Linked DNA regions of Homo sapiens. The protein of the gene in region 1 interacts with the protein of each later gene in a pairwise test. Each region holds a gene or a part of one and is shown on either strand. Other genes may lie near its edges.

The links.
Region 2: the proteins of MKRN3 (region 1) and MEOX1 interact in binary tests that used the Homo sapiens proteins (3 or more experiments, as listed by UniProt).

The regions. Positions count from the first base shown.
Region 1 is NC_000015.10:23,561,834-23,568,569, reverse strand, and holds MKRN3 (E3 ubiquitin-protein ligase makorin-3), read right to left. Parts: upstream 2,897-6,736; 5' UTR 2,788-2,896; coding exon 1,264-2,787; 3' UTR 526-1,263; downstream 1-525. UniProt on the Homo sapiens protein: E3 ubiquitin ligase catalyzing the covalent attachment of ubiquitin moieties onto substrate proteins.
Region 2 is NC_000017.11:43,658,898-43,666,206, forward strand, and holds the start of MEOX1 (homeobox protein MOX-1), read right to left. Parts: upstream 3,026-7,309; 5' UTR 2,638-3,025; coding exon 2,169-2,637; intron 1-2,168. UniProt on the Homo sapiens protein: Mesodermal transcription factor that plays a key role in somitogenesis and is specifically required for sclerotome development. Required for maintenance of the sclerotome polarity and formation of the cranio-cervical joints.

The DNA of each region.
Region 1 (6,736 bases):
CTTTGACTTTCAGTCTTTAAACTGCTTTCATTTAATCTAATTAAGTTGTATGTAGATTTTCTATATTAGTCTTACACTTAGTTTTTAGTGCTTTCTATATTTTATTATTTTATCTTTCCATTCTTTTATTCTCATTGGTTTTAATATTTTTGTTCTATTTTCCCTTTTATAATCTTGTTACTTTTATGTTGAACTCTTTTGTCAAAAGCCCCTTGTTGGGAAAGTCTAGAGACTTTGTATATCAAATACAAAGCACTGTGCCTCTGAGCCTAGGATTTGCTGTTACAAAGAATTAATGAGAAGGTGGCTAAACTGCATAGGAAAACCATTTCTGTATTTATAGAGTAAGCTATTAATGCCATTGTAAGAATTACCAATATAGTGCTTTGTAAGTCCTCTAAGATCTGCATCTGTCACATTTGGCCAGACCCACTTGAACAGTCCTTTTCATTAGATGCTAATTACTGGCTTCTGTGCGAGGGACAGAAAGATTATTCACACAACTCACATCCACACAACAGCCAATCCTGTTAGGCTTTGACCTTCAGCTTTCAGCTCTGTATTTACTTTATTACATAAACATAAATATTATATTGTGATGTATATTCTTTTATATATTTTTTTCAAATACATAACTCTTATACATATATATTTTTATATATATAATTCTTAAATATATATTTCCAAATATAAATTATTTCATGTCAAGCTAAACAGGATAAAAACATGTAAACATATACACTTGGTTTTGGTCAAGTAAAACACAAAATCACAAGTTCATCACAGTTTAACAAGTGCACTTGAAGGGGAAGGAGGGAAAGAACAAACTGTAAACAAACAGATGAGCAGCTGCAAAGCCCTGCAAGGGTCCATTTGTTAAGGCTATTATAGCACAAAGCTACTAGTTCAATTAAAACTTCTCCTTTCACTCTGCCACATTTACTCTTGAGGGTCTTCAAAATAAGTGTGGAAATTCAGTAAACACTACACTAGAACTGAGTTAATCCTGTTGACAACAGAGATGACAAAAAAAAGCCATAAGCTGACATTAATATTAATTTCACCAAAACAGTAACTTTAAGGACTTATTTTTTAACACAGATAATCACCATAATCCTAGGGGGAAAGATATGCAGAATAGACAAGAAAACAGAAGCACTGCCTCAACAGCCCCTGAAAGCAGTAAGAGTGTCAACACAGGGAAAACAGGCAATAGCAGACGACAGAACCTCAGCAGACTAGACCACATGCCACAGCACGATGCTACAGAATCAAATTGAAATATTCTTCCAGCTCATAATGAAGCAAGTCCCACTGGTCCTCAGAGAAGGGTAACTCATCTCTCAGTGAAAGAAACCGCTTAAACAACAGACTGGCCAGCCGAAGCACGACAAGCTCCTTCTTAATGCTTTTATAGAGCATGTTGCCCTCTCCCATTCGCACAGGCTCCACAAGTTGATGCCAGTATGCGCTGAATGACCCACCACCTGGCCCAGGAGGCTCATCTCCCCAGCCCTCAGGGTATTCATGCTTGTAAAAGCATGTGTCTCCAAATGGGCAGTTACCCCTGCCTTCCGCAAAATACCTGCAGGCCTTGTTGCTCATTGCCTCCTTGTATTGCTGAATAAGTTTCTGCTTCTCTTCCTCCTCCTCCACCCAGAACTCACTGGGAATGACCAATTCAGAGGTGACCCTGCACTGTGGGCAAGACTTGACGATCCTGTTCTCAAACTGTCTGGCACTTCTCCACCTGCGGATACACCTAATACAGAAGGAATGGTTGCAATTGGAAAGAATGCCAAAGCGGCGGTCATTGGGGTTGGCCTTCTCATAGACAACCTCCATGCAGATGCCACACACCTTGTCCATACCACGCTGCACAGCAAACGAGAGTTCCATATCTTTCTCGTGTGCTTCAATGCAGGCCCTCATATGTTCTTCCCTCTGGGCAGCATCCATGGGGTGCAAGGTCTGCAGCCCACACATGTCGCATATGTCTCCATGGAGGTACATACAGCTCTCCCCACGAAAGCAAACTCCCCTGGAAGCATAATAGCAAAACCGCAACCCACTGCCCACAGCCATCTGCTTCCTCTCAGTCTCTGAGCTCTGTAGAGGAGCCTCGGGGGCAGATGCAACCCAGCGGCCCCGGTAGGGCTGCCCTGGAACAAACTCAATGGCATCCGCCCAGCTTTCTACACCTGCTCCTCCAGCAGCTCCACGGTCTGCATTGTCTCTCTCGGCTTCAAAGAAACCCCTTTCAGCAGCCGAGCCAATCACAGGCAAGGAAAGGGAGGATGCAGCCGGGGGGGCTTCCGCCACTTCCTGAGTCGGGGGCTCGATGTGCGCAGCCGTGCTAGGGCCTCCACCTGCAGAGGCCCCAGGCGGCGAAACGCCACCCTCAGTGGCCATCTTCCGACCAGAAAGGTCGTGCGAATAGCGACAGTTCTCCCCCTCCTTGCACTGCCCATGTATATAATACCTGCAGATGATCTGCTTTGTCCAAATGCCGCTGCTTCGGCTTGGCAACGGACTGGGCCAGGCTCCTCCTCCTGAGGCTGGGGCAGGCCTCAGGCCTCCTCTGCGGAGGTGGGCAGGGACTGGAGCTACAGGGAAGGGGGCCCAGCCCCTTGCCGCATGTGGCAGGGCTGAATCTGGAGCAGCAGATTCCCCGGAGGGCTCACAGACGGGAAGGTCCGGCCCAGACACACCCTCCCTTGCTGCCTCAGCACCTGCCTGGGCCCCGGCTGCCTCGTGGGCTTCTGAGGGAGCTGCAGGCTCTTCCATGGCTGCTTTGGCACCCCGAAATGGTGCCAGAACCTCTCCGGTATTTTTTCTTTATGGGCTTGAGGCCCGGAATGGCGGCCGCGCTCGGAGGCTTCTCTGGGGGAAGTGTGCATCTCTTTTTCCTTCCCCCCTGCTTTTGGGTCCCTCTGACTGTGTGTTCCTACCTACTTCCGGGCACAGGCAGCATGGCGGACACTTCCTGTGGGGGCAACGTACGTGCTCTGCCTGGTTTTTACCGCAATTTTCCAATCTGACATATTTTTTCGTTCACACAGGCGGGGACCAACCCAGCCCCTTTTGTCTGCCTTCTGCCTCTGCTTCGCTGTGTTCCGGCAGTCCCTAAGTCCCTTCTCACACGATTTCCTCAGGAGAATGAGGTTTTACTTTAATCTCTTCTGGTTTCGGTCATGCACGCTTCGTTGTATTTTCGTATCTGTCTGCCTTAAAAAAAATATAATCCTATAGATTCTGAAACATTTCATCCATGAATTATATAAATTCTTTTTTTATTCACTCCATCTTATGTCTGTGGTTTTTTTCTTTTAATGCCCGATCGCGGCAGGAAGCTTTTTTCAATTCGTTCGGTTGACAAGGCGCCGTTTCTTTTGGTCTTTGTTTTCTGGGATTTCTGAGGGCTTACACTGGATACGCTTTTCACCAGCAAGGCATTAGCAGAGAGCACTTCTGATCCGAGGCTAAGTTAGCACCTTTCAGATGTCTTTCTTTATTGTGATTACTATGCTCATTTTCCCACTGTGTTAGAAGCGCCAGACTTCAACCAGTCCTGATGCTGGCCTAATAAGACACTGTCCCCTGCATGACCCAGGCTTTTATTTTCTCTACTGGTTTAATTCATGGCAGCCCTTTGTTTCCCTTCCTTTCTTTCAACCCCATCTGTGCTGTGTTGTGGCAGGACAGCCTTTCATAACATATCCTGTGCCATATTATCCACAAAGGAATGGTCTTTAATTTCCATGTATGAGCGTTTTGTCATTTTTGCAGATAAATGTAGTAGATTAATCATTTTTTTGTATTCCTACTTTGCTGAGAGTACGTATCATGACTGCATACTGAATTCTGTTATGTAGTTTTATACATTTTTTGAGACAATTTTGTTTTTCCCTTTATTCTCTTAATGTGATTATTTGCAGCTATGAGTTTCAAATATTTAACTAACCAATTTGTTTCTAATAAGAAGCCCTTCTGTCATGATATATCATTTTATATATTATTGGATTTTTTTTCTATAAGTTTCTTTGAGGAAATTTTGTTGCCTAAATCTGTAAAGTGGAAACATATCTGAATATTTATAATCACCCAAGTCAACAAATTAAATTATAATTAAGTAGGTAAAAGCAATGAAAGCAGAATGAAGCAAATAATAAGGGCAAGAAAAGCAATGAAGAAAAACAAATATTAAATAAGGGAAATAAATTAAGTAAAATCCCTTAAACTGCTTATTGAAGCCAGATAATTTCTGGTGAAATTTATCAAGGAAAAATGAAGAAGGCTCTAATACCCAAGATCAGTAATTTCAAATATGTTATCACTACATTAATAACAGACATTAAAAATCATTAGAGAATATCAGGAACAAAGTTAGGAGATAAAACTTGAAAAGTTACATGAAATAGTCATATTGGTGGAAACATCTATTAGTAAAAATGACAGGAGCAGAAATACATGTGAATATGGATCTGTTAAATTACATCTGTAATTTAGATAATTATCTAAATAAAGGTCTCTAAAACTTTCTCTCTGAAATAAATCTAAAGGCAAAAAAAATCTGTATTTATTATTGCAAGTCCTAGCTAGTGTAATAGCAAAGAAATAAAAGATGTTATAACTGGAAAGAAATTATTGATGGAATGCAACAGAAAATTGAGAATAATTTACAGATAAGCTATTAGATTTAATAGGTACATTTAGCAAGGACACTGGACAGGAGTCCAATATATGAAAATCATTTTTATTTCTCTATCATCAATAACATTTGAAGTAAACATTTAAAATTAATAACATTCATAACAACATTAAAAGTTAGCTAACCTAGGAATTAAACTAATTAAGGTTATACAATAAAATTAAAAACATTTTAGCTTCAGAAGACCTAAATAAATTGTGGGATACTTTATATATAGTCTTTATAGTCGGTCAGTAGAAGGCTCAATGTTTTTAAAAGGTAGTCTTTTCCTAATTTGATAATTATTTGAAAATGGTGCTGATTATTCATCGTGAATGTAGGAAATGTTGGATTTATCTTTCTCCTTTTCATAGTTACCAAGTTTTATATTTTGCATGCAAGCTGTCCCAAAGTCTGCCTCACTTGAACTTTCTGAAACAAACTTTCTCTTTATCAGGATTTGTTTGTCAGCCCCAGTGATTTTTACAAGAAAAAGACTTGCAGCACAGCTCTCAGGCTTCTACGCCAAGCTCTCTACAAATTCACAAACATAAGAATCCTGAATATAAAATTATTACTGGCTTAATTGTGATATTTTCCTAGCACTGCATCTATTATTTGCTTAATTGTGATATTTTCCCAGCACTGTATCTAAATCATATTTGACCCTCTCTTGATGCACCAGCACTGTCCAGAGGAACTTTCTGTGAAGAATTTATATATATGCATGCTGTACAGTATGAAAGCTAGCCCCATGGGGTTCTTGGGCACTTGAAATGAGGCTAGAGTGACGGAGGAAATGAATGTCCATTTTTTAAATTATAAATTTAAATAGCCACATGAGGCTAGTAGTTACTGCATTGGAGTGAAGTTCTATACAATATTTGACCATCTCATCTCCTAACACAAGGGAACTGAGAAGCATATGTTTCCTCACCTGCCCAAGGCTATGCAGCTGGTGCCAGGCAGTGTTTGCTTCCAAATGCCCACCTGTGTGGCTGCCACTGGTGTTCATGTCTTATAGTCTGATAGTGACTTTATCTTTTAGTTTTGTCGTGACAATATTTCATATAAACTGTTATAAGCCAATATTGTATCCCATGATTTTAAATACCATAAAAAATTGAATAACTGGAAATAACTGGGCAGTGCATCTTGAGAAAAATAAACTAGTTCCCATCCTATCCAAATGTCTTCAGAGATCATTTCCTCTGACTGCCATTGTCTATATTCCTGCCATGATATATACATATGTATATTTTTTGAGCATCAATATTGTTTTTACAGTTCTCAGAAAGTAGACATTTAGTCATTTGTCTAGTTATTTGGCTCAGCTGTGCCTTCTTTTCTAACAAAACACTGACAGCCTCAGAGGCTGGGACCTGGTTTCCTTGTGCACACACCAGTCTGCAGGGTAGCATGGGATCCCCTGGCCGGTCAGCATTTGGGGGTCCGAATGGAATGAGTGCAAGGCTGGGCGATGGCAGAGCTGAGGTGAAGTCCGGGCAGTCTAAGAATATCCTAAGAGGAGGGAGCAAGTTCAGAAGTGAACTGCAGGATGGAGAGAAGCTGCAAAGTCCTGCAGTTTTTTACTCCAAACAGCTCAGGCATGCGCTGCCTAGCCCCGTGTGGTTAACATGTCCGTATTTAAAGAACACACAATTAATTGCCTAAAAGCATTATCCTTCTCAGCACTCTCCTATCCTTCAGATCTAACCTTTAGGCACTGCCGGCTGCCGGCGGGGTCCAGGACCCAGCGGGGCTGGGCGCGCGGAGCAGCGCTGGGTGCAGCGCCTGCGCCGGCAGCTGCAAGGGCCGCAGAAATTAAACGCGAGTGTCCAGAATCGGGCATTGTGGGTTTAAATCCTGAATCCACTGGTCACTATCTGAGACTTTCCCCTGTCACAAATTAGTTACCTTCTTTTATCCCATCTGACAACGGGAATAATAACAGCAAGAATTACACCGACTAGTTCACAGGTTTGCTGTATTAATTAATTTATAATAATTCATTAATTCTTATAAAGTGATTGGAACGATGCCTGA
Region 2 (7,309 bases), on another chromosome or scaffold:
TGCTGGTGCTCCTGAGGGGACCCTTAGGGAAGCCCAGGGCCCCTGCGGATGGGAACCTCCCTCCACCAAAGTCTGACCCTGAAGCATGCAGGCCGTTCAGCCGAGGGTGTCCCTGTACTCCTGGGTGGCCAGCTGCTTAGTGTGAATGGTCTCTCTGCATTGCAGGGCCATCGGCCACTCGCCAAAAAGAGAGCTGGTGCATTTGGGTTTTGCTGAGACTCGGAATGCTGGAAGATTCTGCCTGAGCCCAGCAGGCTCTTGGCTTTGCTATCCCTTCCCAATGCCCTTGGCTGTCAGTTCTCTGGAAAGTGGCAGAGAGGAAGGAGCCACAGTGCTGCGTGCCGCCACCAAGGGGAAAGCTCTTCAACCAGGTTCAGAGCCAAGTCGCTGAGAGTTGCTTCTCATCCTTAGCACATTTCCTACCAGGGGCAGGATGAGTTAATTTTCGGGATGGGGATCTAACTGGCTGGCGGTTTAAAGGGCCCTTCTATTTAGCAGCCATGAGGGCTGCTAGAGTTCCTATCTCCCATTGAAGAAGGGGCTTCTTCAAGCAGACAGACCAAACATCATTTCAAAATGAGGACTGCATTTGAAATCTACTGAAGGGGGTGATACCGGGGGCCTGAAGCCTGGGGTTTGAGCTCACTTCTAGGGTGACCAATTCTTCTGTTTGCCTGGGACTGTGGGGTTTCCTACGACAGGATTTTCAGTGCTAAAACTGGAAAAGTCCTGGGCAAATGGAGATGAGCTGCTCACTCTAGTTTGACCCCATTCTTTCTGTGTTCTCACCAACTTTCAGTCTTTCATTTTGCAGATTGAGAGAATCAAGGTACTAATAAAACCTGCTGTCCCCATCTCCCAAACCCGTGGGACTCAAAAGAGCTGACGTCAGTATCCCATGGCACCTTAAGCCTCCCCATCAGGGCACATCCCACTGCTGACACACCTCTGCAGGCCTCTTCTTCCTCTCAGTTTGAGCTTTCTTGGGTGAGACCCCTTTATTCATCTCAGAGCATTCCTGGGCTTGGCTAAGAGCAGAAACTCGGGAAAGCTGTGCTTATAAAGCAAAGCACAAAGCATTCCCACCTGTTGGTTGGTGTCCTTCTTTTCTGTCCTGCCCTGGTTAGCCCCATGGGAAGGTCCTCTACAGGCTCCGACAGACAGGCGTGCCCCTGAGGGCGGCTGTCAGGAGGAAAACAGGGCAGCACGGGCAGGAGGCTTGGTCACTGCTTTGTTCTGAACGAGGCCGGGACAAGGAACCAGACAAAAGGTGGACAGGTATAGTGAGCAACCAGGGAGGGCCTGGTGGGGAGGTGAGGAAGCAGCAGGTCCCCACCCTGGGGAAGAGAAGGGCTTTAGCTGGAATCTTAACAAATAGGCCAATCTCATCCTCCAGCCTCTGGGACTCCAGCACGGACTCCCTTGGCTGCCTGCCTCCCTGACTCTCTCAGAGGCTGCCCATCCCTTGCAGCTCCTTGCGGGGCTGCCTTCCTGGGGGGTCAGCCAGATCTCAGCATGCTGAGTTGTCTGTCCCCTTGGCCTGGACATGGCCCAGCTCCGCAGGGTGATATCTGGTGGGCAGTCTGCCCCAAACCTCAGCCCTCCATCTCCCCCTCACCCCTTGATTCTCCCATCCCAGCCGCAGGCCTGCTTCTCTGCCTCTAGGCTCCTGGACACATAGGGTCTTGGCTTTGGGTGGCCACCCAGGGTCCCAGCTTCAGTCTTAGCTCTCAGAGCCTTAACCTCAGCTGAACTTCCCTGGTAAGCGAGCCCTGTGGCTCTAGGACCACTTGGGGCTGGCCAAAGCATGGTGGGGAGGAGGATGACTCAATGGCAGCCTGATTCAGGAAAGCCCCTCACCAGCCCTCGCCAGTCTGCACCCAGAGGATCCATTTCACGTGTCCTCCAAATCCTGGCTGATCCTGTTTCATTCTCTTGCTGGACACCCTTTCTGGGGCCCAGGAGTGCTGGGACACAGACATGGTCCCCATCACCAGAGAATCCTAGAACTCTCAGTGGAAGAAACCCCAAAGGTAACTGGTCCAGTCTCCTGCATTTGGATGGACTAGACAGAAATTCATGCTCAGAGCACCTAGGCACAGAGAGGGTGAGTAACTTCCCCAGGGTCACACAGTAAAGGAATGATCAGCTGCTCCTGAGCCACCTACCTGAACTCTCCTTTCTCCGCCTGGATGATTTCTTCTCTGTCTCATTGGCAGTGCTCCCAAGCACCCCGTAGTCATCGCCTGGGCCTCCTGTGGTGTCCACCAGGCCCAGGCTGCTGGTCCCCATTTCCTTGGAACCCCCTGCCGGGCCTGAGTTGGGCCTGCGCCGGGCGTCTGAGACAGGGAAGTGCCAGTTGGGGGACTGTGGGAAAGCGGGGTGCTGCTCAGTGAAGATGTGCTCCTCCTGGGGCAGGCTGTGTGGGGTGGCTGCCAGGCAGGAGGCTGAGAAGTCAGGGTACGCTGCCGTCGCTGTCGCCAGGAAGTCTGGTTTCTGGTGGAAGGAGAACGGGGTGGGCGGGTAGTGGGGTAGCCCTGAGGCCCCATTGCCTTCCGAGTGGGGGTTTCGAAGGCAGCCCCAGACAGGGGCTGGGGGCTGGAGGCTCCTCATGCAGCTGCTGGCCGCGGGATCCATCTGCTGTCCGCTGCACGCCTCGGTCCTTTCAAAGATTTGATTCTTTATACTTTTTATGTTCAAATTTTTAAAAATGCAAAAGAAAAAAAACTAAATAGGAGGGAAAAATGTTCAACAGAAAATTTACCCCAGGAACCAAAAAAAAAAAAAAACCCAAAACTAAAGTCTCTCCTTAAAGTACACACACATGTGGCCAGCTACTCCTATGTGTGTGCACACACCTATGTCGGGCTTGCTCCTGCCCCTCCAATGCACCAGCCTACCTACTGGGATCCCCTGTATGTGTATTTGTCGCCAATGACACTAAACATTTTCACTGTCCCAACCCAGACGCACCAGCTGACGAGGAGTTCGTCCTGGAGCCCAGAGCAAATGCCTGCAGAGGGCTGGACCAGGGCTGCTGGGACACACTTTTAAATCCTGCGGTGGGGAGAGAGTGACAAATTTCTGAAGTGAAATGTGAGAGAGGAGAGGGAGGGGTTAACCCACACACACAAGATCCCCTCCAACCAAAACCCTAGCAGGCAACTATTAATCATCAGAAACCTTATATGCACATCTAATGGGATTTGCAGATGGAGACTTTTAAAGAAACATTGTCTGTATTTTTTTTTTAAGGAAAGAGAGCAGCACACACACACATACACACACACCGTCTTTAATGTGCCTCCTGTAACACTATGAAGTTATTTTTATTGCACTGTTAACAAAATTCCCCAAGTCTTGGATTTAGAAAAAGCCTTAAGTCAGATCCAGAATCCATCAAATGCCAAATTCCAGGGAGTGAAGTGAGGAATAAGAGCAAGAGACAAGCTTGGTGATTGCATTTGATTTAAAGGCCCTTCTACTGCTGCCTGCGAAAAAGGAAGGTGGATTAAAAGAAATCTTTTTTGCAAGTCTCAGCGGCCCACTGTGGTCTGCAGTACAAAGAAAGGCACACTCTAGAAAAAAAGAATTTCTCTCTGCCCAGAGTGACATTCTCACTTTCTCAGTAACTTAAAAAAACAATCAGATTCTTCCTTCCGCTCTTTAACCTCCAACATACATGCCAATTAGCCACACTCTTCTCTAGAGAGGTTTCAAGTCATTTTTCTTCACAGCAATGGCAAGGCTCTTAAATAAGGTCCTTGAAGTTTCTTCGGGTCTCCTCCCACCTGCTCCCTGCCCCCTTCACCTCCACCCACCTGCTTCCCTTTCTCATCCCCCAGAGGCGGAGGCTTCCGAGGAATTTGGGGTAGGGAAATAGGAATCAGGGGCTCCTCATTCCCCAAAGGAGCCTCTTTGGCAAGCAGGCACGTGGGTCTCCGGGCTGGTGCACATCACAGGGCAGCCAGCCCAAGTGCCATCTTGATGCCCAGTCTTCCTCATGGCTGCGCCCTGCTGGTCTCTCAGAGGGTTAATGCAATTTCTTGGAGGACGACATTCCTAACACCCAGGGGCCAGAACTCCTTCCCCACTGGTTATTCCCATGGCCCAGAGCAGCAGGATGGGGGCAGAAACAGGCATGGACCTTAACAGCAGCGTCTCTGCTGGCTGCTTCCAAAGACGGCGAGGGTTCCCTGAGGAGGGGCCCCTAGGTCTTAGCTCTGCAGCCTGGAGGTGGGGCCCTGGGGGGTGGGTGCAGGAGATGCTCCTAGGAGGAGCCGAAGGGCACCCAGGGATGTGGAATGAAGCCACGACTGGCCTTTAATCCAGAAACTCCAGTCAGATACACATCCTGGGAGCAGGAGCAGCTGTAAAAGATGGGGAGGGGTGTACATATGAAAAGATGTGCCCTCTTCTGGAACAAGCGGTCAGAGTGTTGTAGACCAGTAGAGTGGATGGGGTCATAGCTGTCAACCAGACTCATCTTTCTGCTTTGCCCAGGGCTTAGCTGTGGCACACACAATTCTCTGAGCCTCACAACTTTCCTAGGATGGGTAAGTAAGAATTATGTCTCCATTTTGCAGATGACAAAACCGAGGCTCAGATGGATGACTGGGCTGCCCAGACTCACACAGCTAAGAAATGGTGGAATCAGCACTTGGCCTCAGGTGTCCTGCTGTTCAGTTTGGAGCAGGCCAGATGCAGAGGAGGAGGCATGGGGTTTGAGGTTAGACGGGTCTGAGTTCAAGCCCCAGGTCTGCCACTTCCTGGCTGTGTGCCCTGGAACAAGTCACCTTATCTCTCTGAACTTCTTTTTTTTTTTTTTCTTTTTGAGATGGAGTCTCGTTCTGTCGCCCAGGCTGGAGTGCAGTGGCATGATCTCAGCTCACTGCAAGCTCCGCCTCCCGGGCTCACGCCATTCTCTTGCCTCAGCCTCCCGAGTAGCTGGGACTACAAGCACCCGCCACCACGCCCGGCTAATTTTTTGTATTTTTTAGTAGAGACGGGGTTTCACCGTGTTAGCCAGGATGGTCTCAATCTCCTGACCTCGTGATCCGCCCGCCTCGGCCTCCCAAAGTGCTGGGATTACAGGCATGAGCCACCATGCCTGGCCATCTCTCTGAACTTCTGTTTCCTCATCTGAGATGACAGTCAGAGTGGGATCTGTGTAAGGCACTTTGCACCTTACACATTTTTACCCCCACGGATTCCCACAAAAGCCTTCTGAGGCAACAGTCATTCTCATCAGCTCCGTTTCTCTCTCTCTCTTTTTTTTTTATCAGCTCCGTTTTTCAGCAGAAGACTCTGATGCACAGATAGACTGTGTAACCTGCACAAGGCCACACAGCAGGGAAGCGGCGGACCCAGGATTCAAATTGAGGCAGCCCAGCCCACAGACATTTGCAAATCTTCAATGAAATCCTTTATGTAGGCCAGGCACGGTGGCTCAGACCTATAATCCCAGCACTTTGGAAGGCTGAGGCAGGCAGATCATTTGAGGCCAGGAGTTCAAGACCAGCCCGGCCAACATGGTAAAACCCCGTCTCTAATAGAAATACAAAAATTAGGCCGGGCGCGGTGGCTCACGCCTGTAATCCCACCACTTTGGGAGGCCGAGGCGGGTGGATCATGCGGTCAGGAGATCGAGACCATCCTGGCTAACACAGTGAAACCCCGTCTCTACTAGAAATACAAAAAAAAAAAAAAAAAGGCGGGCGTGGTGGCGGGCGCCTGTAGTCCCAGCTACTTGGGAGGCTGAAGCAGGAGAATGGTGTGAACCCGGGAAGCAGAGCTTGCAGTGCACCGAGATCACGTCACTGCACTCCAGCCTGGGTGACAGAGCGAGACTCCATCTCAAAAAAAAAAAAAAAAAGAAATACAAAAATTAGCTGGGTGTGGTGGCACATGCCTGTAATCCCAGCTACTCGGGAGGCTGAGGGCAGGAGAATCGCTTGAGCCTGGGAAGCAGAGAGGTTGCGGTAAGCCAAGATTGTACAACTGCACTCCGGCCTGGGCGACAGAGTGAGACACTGTCTCAAAAAAAAAAAAAAAGAAAAAGAAAAAGAAATAAAGAAAGAAATCCTTTATGCAAAAGGCAGAGTAAGTAATGGACAAATGTGGCTCCCTTCCTAGCACATCTATTTCTGGTTAACCTCGATGATCCCAAAGGGTGAACCTGGGAATGGGGAGTTCTGAGGAAATTCTACAGAAACAGCCTTGTGAGGTCCTTTGTGGGGGGCACGCTGTGCTGTGGGGGTTCTGGAAGGAATCCGTGGGAGGCTGGGAGGAAGATCTGGCTTGTCAGCTTCCCTAGGAAAACCTTCCCCTGGGCTGGCCGCAGGCTGTAACCGGATTCCTGCTCCACCTCTGCATCTGGCCCAGGGACCTCATGGCAGGGAGGCCCAGCGCCTGGCCCTTTGCCCCTGGACGGGGTGGGCCCTGGGTCATGGTGGGGTGGGTGGGGAGGTCAGGAGGGCCATGGGGAGGGGGCGCGGTGGGGTGCTTTGCCCTGAGAACACAGGCCTCTGGCACCCCGGAGCCCCCGGCAGCTGCTGGCGTCTGTCAGCCACCTTGCGGGGCGCGGCCGGGGGCTGCTGGCCCCTACATCTTCCTGACAGGCCCCTCTTCTGAGGCCAGGAAAAAACAACAACAGTTCCTCCCCTCACGGCAACCCATTTGTTAGATGAAGGCCGGGCACCAGCACCTTTAACCTCCTCAAAGTCAGCGTTTCCCTGTCAAGGCCCCACAGGGCCAGAGACAGAGATGGATGGAAGGAGCTGTGTGTCGAAAAAGCCCTGTGGCCTCATGAGGAGAGCTCTGTTTTCAGGAAGGGAGGGGACCCCGGTTTCTGATTGTTGGGGAGAATAAGGGGAGGAAGAGGAAAAGTGTGAGTCACGAGGAGGTCCCCCAGGGGCGTGGGGGGGCCCAGGAGGGCTTTCAGCCTGGCCACACCTGAGCCATCACGTGGAACTTGCGGAATGTCTCCCATTGTGCGTGGCAGGCAGGCGTGTACTTGGCAGGACAGGGCTGCTTCTGTTTGTGGCCACCCCACCCCCTTGTGCTTGGAGAGGCAGGGTGTCAGGGCAAGGCCCTGGACCTGGAGGCAGAAGACACGGGTTCAAGGTGTGACCTTGCCTGTTACCGGCTGTGTGGTCTCAGGCAAATCACACCCTTCTCTGAGCTTCATTTTTCTCACTGGCAAAATGGAGTTGACAGTTCCGGCCTCACCTGGCGGTTAGGAGGATAAATGAACTGCATCTGAGAACAGAGCTGGCTGACTATAAAGGGTGATGCATGTGAGGAATAG